Homo sapiens: one gene and its partner. The protein of the gene in region 1 purifies or fractionates together with the protein of each later gene. This does not show direct contact. Each region holds a gene or a part of one and is shown in the gene's direction. Other genes may lie near its edges.

Region 1 (3,500 bases):
ATGACATTTATCTTTTCAGCTGTGTCTTAAATAATTTGTAGATTACTGGTCCATGGGAAACTTAAATTAGTCATGGTCAGCCTCTCTTGCATACTGACATAGAGTCAGGTGTAGTCTCCCGGTTACTGGCAGGGGCCTATGTTGAAGAGTTTATAGAGAAGTTATGCAGTGATGATGATTATCTAATGGCTCTAACTTTGTGCTCTTTTACACTATCCCTTTGATTAAACATATTTATTGACCATTATCTGCCAAGCAATATGTTCCTCTCCAGGGGTAGGAAAGTAAAAATATATTCCTGGATCTTAGGAAGCTTCCAGTTTAGGAACCTAATGATAATTATAAGTACACAAATAAATAAATGGATCAAGTCCACTGATTTTTGTAGTTCCTTCCTATTCTCTGAAGGTCACAGCAGACGTTGTTTGTGTTCATTAATCATTTGTGAAATTGAACATTAGCAGCCCTGGGATAGTCATGTTTTTTGACAAAGTATTAACATTCTTTAGGCTTGCAGGTTTTTCACTGGTATTGTGAAAGGTTTAGACTATGTGGTCACTCCTGTGTCCCACCCACACTGCTCTGAAATTCTCTGTGATCACTTCTTATTGAGAGTATCATAAAATAATGTTAACTAAGGTTTCCCCACAGTATCACTGTGAAGCTTATTATTTCCACTTCTTTGGCCAAATTTTCATTTCAAAAGGTTTTCGTTCTTTAACATCAGATTCCTTCTTTGATTACATAAACATTACTACTTGGAGAAGAAAAGGCAGTTTTCAAAGCACTAAAGAGTGTCATCTTCCATCTCAATGGTGGTAATAGAATAACTCAACATAAGATGTTTGGGCTGTCATTTATATATACACACTGGCAATGATGGCTTTAATTCTTAACAGCATGTTACTCCAAATACCTAGTCTCATAAGACTCATTCAACAGATGTTTTAAAAGTACTATATTTTAACGGCTGGAAATAGTGGCTCACACGTGTAATCCCAGCACTTTGGGAGGCTGAGGCGGGTGGATCACAAGGTCAGGAGTTTAAGACCAGCCTGGCCAAGGTGGTGAAACGCCGTCTCTACTAAAAATACAAAAATTGGCCAGGCGTGGTGGCGGGTGCCTGTAATCCCAGCTACTTGGGAGGCTGAGGCAGAGAATTTTTTGAACCTGGGAGGCAGAGCTTGCAGTGAGCCCAGGTCGCGCCACTGCACTCCAGCCTGGGTGACAGAGTGAGACTCATCTCAAAAAAAAAAAAAAAAAAAAAAGTGCTGTATTTTTCTCAAATGTAACTTCTGACTTATTTGTTTAAAGATGAGTGCAATATAGCTAAGTTGTTTTTAGAGTAAGTAACTGTTTACAGTGTTCCCCTGTGATTCTTTTTTTTAGTTTCAACCCTTCCTTTCCATTTTCATCTTTATTGGCCTTTTCATCTTTTTTTGTCACATCTCATCCTTTGTATCCTCCTTTTGTCCCTTCTCTTCCTTCTTTTTTCTTTTATGCTTCTCTTCTCTTCCCTCCCATTATGTTTTTCTCTTCACTTACCTTCTCTTTTTATCTATCCCTTCTGAGTCCTTCTGATTTACTTTTTTTCCCGTTCATCTTTCTTCTTTCTCATCTCCCATTTCATACTTCTATTTATTTGTCCATTTCACCATCTGTTGAACTACCTATTTATTTACATTTTGTTTTGTTTTGTTTTGGTTTGGTTTGTTTTTTTGTGACACAGTCTCACTCTGTTGCCCAGGCTGGAGTGCCATGGCGTGATCTTGGCCCACCACAACCTCTGCCTCCCGGGTTCAAGTGATTCTCCTGCCTCAGCCTCCCGAGTAGCTGGGACTACAGGCAGGCGCTACCATGCCCGGCTAATTTTTGTGTTTTTTTTTTTTTTTTTTGAGACGGAGTCTCGCTCTGTCGCCCAGGCTGGAGTGCAGTGGCGAGATCTGGGCTCACTGCAAGCTCCGCCTCCCGGGTTCATGCCATTCTCCTGCCTCAGCCTCCCAAGTAGCTGGGACTACAGGCGCCCGCCACTACGCCCGGCTAATTTTTTGTATTTTTAGTAGAGACGGGGTTTCACCGTTTTAGCCGGGATGGTCTCGATCTCTTGACCTCGTGATCCTCCCGCCTCGGCCTCCCAAAGTGCTGGGATTACAGGCGTGAGCCACCGCGCCCGGCCTAATTTTTGTGTTTTTAGTAGGGACGGAGTTTCACTATGTTGGCCTGGCTGGTCTCAAACTCCTGACCTTGTGATCCACCCACCTCGGCCTCCCAAAGTGCTGGGATTACAGGTGTGAGCCACTGCGCCTGGCCTATTTACAGTTCTTTATTTCTGTCTGTCATCTTTATCAGCACAGTTCTCTACTTTGGTATTCTAAAAATCTGTACAAGTAAAATTAGAAGCATATCTCGTTTTATTGTGCTTTGCTTTATGGTACTTTGCAGCAATTGTGTTTTTACTAATTGATGGTTTCTGGCAACACTGCCTTAAGCAAGTCTGTCAGTGCCATTTTTCCAACAGCACATGCTCACTTTGTGTCTCTGTGTCACATTTTGATAATTCTCACAATATTTCAAACTTCATTATTATAATATCTTTTTTTGGTGATCATTGATCTCTGATGTTACTCTTGTAATTTTTTGGGGGTGCTACAAATCATGTGCACATATGACAGTGAACTTAATCTATAAATGTTGTGTGTGTTCTGACTGCTCCACCAACTGGCCATTCCCCTGTGCCTTTCCCACTCCTTGGGCACAGTATTGAAATTAGGCCACTTAATAACTCTACCAGGGCCTTTAAATGTTCAAGGGAATGGAAGAGTTGCATGCCCTCATTTTAAATCAAAAGCTAGAAATGATTAAGCTCAGTGAGGAAGTCATGTTGAAAGCTGAGATAGGCTAAAAGCTAAATCTCTTGTACTAGACAATTATCCAAATTGTGAAAGCAAAGGAAAAGTTGTTGAAGGAAATTAAAAGTGCTACTCCAGTAAACACACACATCATGAGAGAGTAAAATGGCATTGCTGATAGGGAGAAAATCTTATTGGTCTAGAATTCAAGGCTGTTCAATCTGTGGCCTGCAGGCCATATATAGCCCAGGACAGTTTTGAATGCTGCCCAATACAAATTTGTGAACTTTCCTAAAAGATTATTCGATTTTTGTTGCAATTTTTTTTTCTTTTTTTAAGCTCATTGGCTATTGTTGTTAGTGTATTTTATGCGTAGCCCAAGACAATCCTTTTTGGCCCAGGGAAGCCAAAAGATTAGACACCCCTGGATAGATCAAGCCAGCCACAACATTCTCTGCCAAAGCCTAATCCAGAGCAAGACCTTAACTCTCTTCAATTCTGTGAAGGCTGAGAGAGATGAGAAAGCTGGAGGAGAAAGGTATGAAACTAGCAGAGGTTGGTTCCTGAGGTTTAAGAAAAGAAGCTGTCTCCAAAATGTAAATGTGCAAAGTGAAGCAGCAAGTGCTCATGAAGAAGCTGAAGCAAGTTATC
Region 2 (2,554 bases), on another chromosome or scaffold:
AGATGTACCAGGCAATGAACACGCCAGGGAATTTCTGGCTCATGCACCAACTAAAGGACTTTGGATGCCACTGGGGAAAGAAGTCAAAGTTATGCAGTGTGAGTGTGGGAGAGTTTCCCTAATCCATGCAACTTACATGCCTCAATTTACAAAGAGTGTTTACTTCTTTTATTTAACTTGTTCTCATCACAGCCCTCTTACAGCCAAGGCACGTTCTCCATCTTCTAGATAAGGAAGCATCCACCCCACCCCCCACCACCGTGCCATGTGAAGAAGAAAGAGGGCTGTCATCTTAAGCCAGGAAGAAAGCTCTCACCACAAACCCACCTTGCTGGGACCCTGATCTCAGATTTCCAACCTACAGAATGAATGAGAAAACCAGTTTCTGTTGTTTAGGCCACCCAGAATACGGCATTTTGTTATGTCAGCCCGAGCTGACTAAGACACCATCTTTCTGCAGGTCCCCTTAGCCTCTCTCCCGTGTTGGATCACCCATTTTCCTGTGTCTTGAGTCTTCTTTATTATCATATTCTCTCCTTATGGTGTAACAAATCCTATGGCTGTTACCTTCAAAATGGGTTTATAGAAGATAAAAATGTTAAGACCTTTACTTTTCTGGAATCGTCTTTAACAGATTTTTAACTACCAGGATATTGAATTCTAATTTAAAAATCAGTTTCCTTGAGAATTTTGATGGGAATGCTTCATTGCCTTGATTATTTGTTAAAAGCAAAGACAACGTGCCTCAGAGTTCAGTATCTATCGGTTTTTCTTCTTTGGGTGGGTTATATTTTCCCAGAGAAGGCTCCCACGTGGAGGGAAAGCCATACTATGAGTGTTCTGGGAGCCGAGTGGAGGGAGTCTGGAAATGTGTCCATCTGCTTTTCATTCATTCGTGTGACCCTTTGTGGCTATTGCAGCAGCTTCCTTCAGACCTACCTGATGTCTCCCTGGTCTCCCTGGCCAGAGACCCTCTGTTTTACCTTTTCCACACATTAAACAACCTTCTACCAGGGTCAGGAAAACAGGGTCTCACTCTGTCACCCGGGCTGGAGTGCAGTGGTGTGATCACAACTTACTGCAGCCTCAACCTCCCAGAATCAGGTGATCTCACATCAGCCTCTGAGATAGCTGGGACTACAGGCATGCGCCACCAGGCTTAGCTAATTTTTTTGTACTTTTGTAGAGATAGGGTTTCACCATGTTGCCTAAGCTAGTCTCGAACTCCTGGCCTCAAGCGATCTACCCGCCTCTGCCTCCCAAAGTGCTAGGATTACAGGTAGGAGCCACTGTGCCCAGCCACCATTAATATTCTAAGAGAACTTGTGATTTTATTTACTTAAAAGTGAGAGTTTTGAACAGACTCAACCTGAGAAAGAAGCTTTTATAGTGTCTAAAATAGTAAATGAGAAGCAGAGATACTTTATGAAAACATTTACTCTGAAAAATATACTGAAACACACTTTAAAAAAAATGTACCTTTTGGGCCGGGCGTGGTGGCTCACGCCTGTAATCCCAGCACTTTGGGAGGCTGAGGCGGGCGGATCACCTGAGGTCAGGAGTTGAAGACCAGCCTGGGCAACATGGCAAAACCCCATCTCTGCTAAAAATACAAAAATTAGCTGGGTGTGGTGGTACGCACCTGTAATCCCAGCTACCCAGGAGGCTGAAATAGAAGAATATCTTGAACCCAGGAGGCAGAGGTTGCAGTGAGCTGAGATCACGCCACTGCACTCCAGCCTGAGCGACAGAGCAGGACTCCATCTCAAAAAAAAAAATTCACCTTTTGAAGTAATTCTCCATTGGATTGCTTCATAAATACTTGGTGATAGAATATTATTCCTAAAGGTATAAGACTAAAGGATGCTTGGGGAAGCAATTAGTTTACCTCTGTTTCTGGGATCTTACATGGCTTGTCCATAATTATATTTTGTTTTAGAATTAGAGTTTAATGAAGAAAAACTTGAATATATTCTGCTGATTCTTTATCTTGAGTAGGTGAAACTGTTATCTTACAGAAATATTTCTCTTTTCGTTTTTAGGTTGGCGTTGCAAACGCTATGGTCACCGAACGGGTGACAAAGAATGCCCTTTCTTTATCAAAGGCAACCAAAAGTTAGAGCAGTTCAGAGTGGTAAGTAAAGTCCAAGAGTGTCAATTTACATTTATCAGAGATAGTGAAAATCAGTGAAGCAGAAAGTCACCAGTGAACTTGAATGGTCACATAAAATACATTCCCAGAAGCCCTTTGACCAAAGTGTGTGCTGTTAACTACATGCTTATTAAATTACATTTGTATGACAAATTAGCTCTTTTACAAAAAAAAGGAATTCTTATTAAAGTGATCTTTGTTTGTAACTTGGAACAGTGATTTTTTTTCTGAAACAGACATTGTTATCTATTCAACCGCACTTTTTAAAATTTACTGTGTAAAAAAGTCATGTTTCATGACTGAAATCAGGGATTTAATTTCCCGGTCTTTAAAGAGTACATGTCTTTAAACTGTAAGATTAAAGTGTCCGTATATTTTTTCTTTAGATGACAGTTATTCCCT

The links. The genes of interacting proteins can lie anywhere in the genome.
Region 2: the proteins of FAM83B (region 1) and RP9 fractionate together in Homo sapiens (co-fractionation; one large-scale study listed by BioGRID). This does not show direct contact.

The regions. Positions count from the first base shown.
Region 1 is NC_000006.12:54,849,771-54,853,270, forward strand, and holds part of FAM83B (protein FAM83B), read left to right. Parts: intron 1-3,500. UniProt on the Homo sapiens protein: Probable proto-oncogene that functions in the epidermal growth factor receptor/EGFR signaling pathway. Activates both the EGFR itself and downstream RAS/MAPK and PI3K/AKT/TOR signaling cascades.
Region 2 is NC_000007.14:33,096,851-33,099,404, reverse strand, and holds part of RP9 (retinitis pigmentosa 9 protein), read left to right. Parts: coding exon 1-98; intron 99-2,042; coding exon 2,043-2,134; intron 2,135-2,554. UniProt on the Homo sapiens protein: Is thought to be a target protein for the PIM1 kinase. May play some roles in B-cell proliferation in association with PIM1.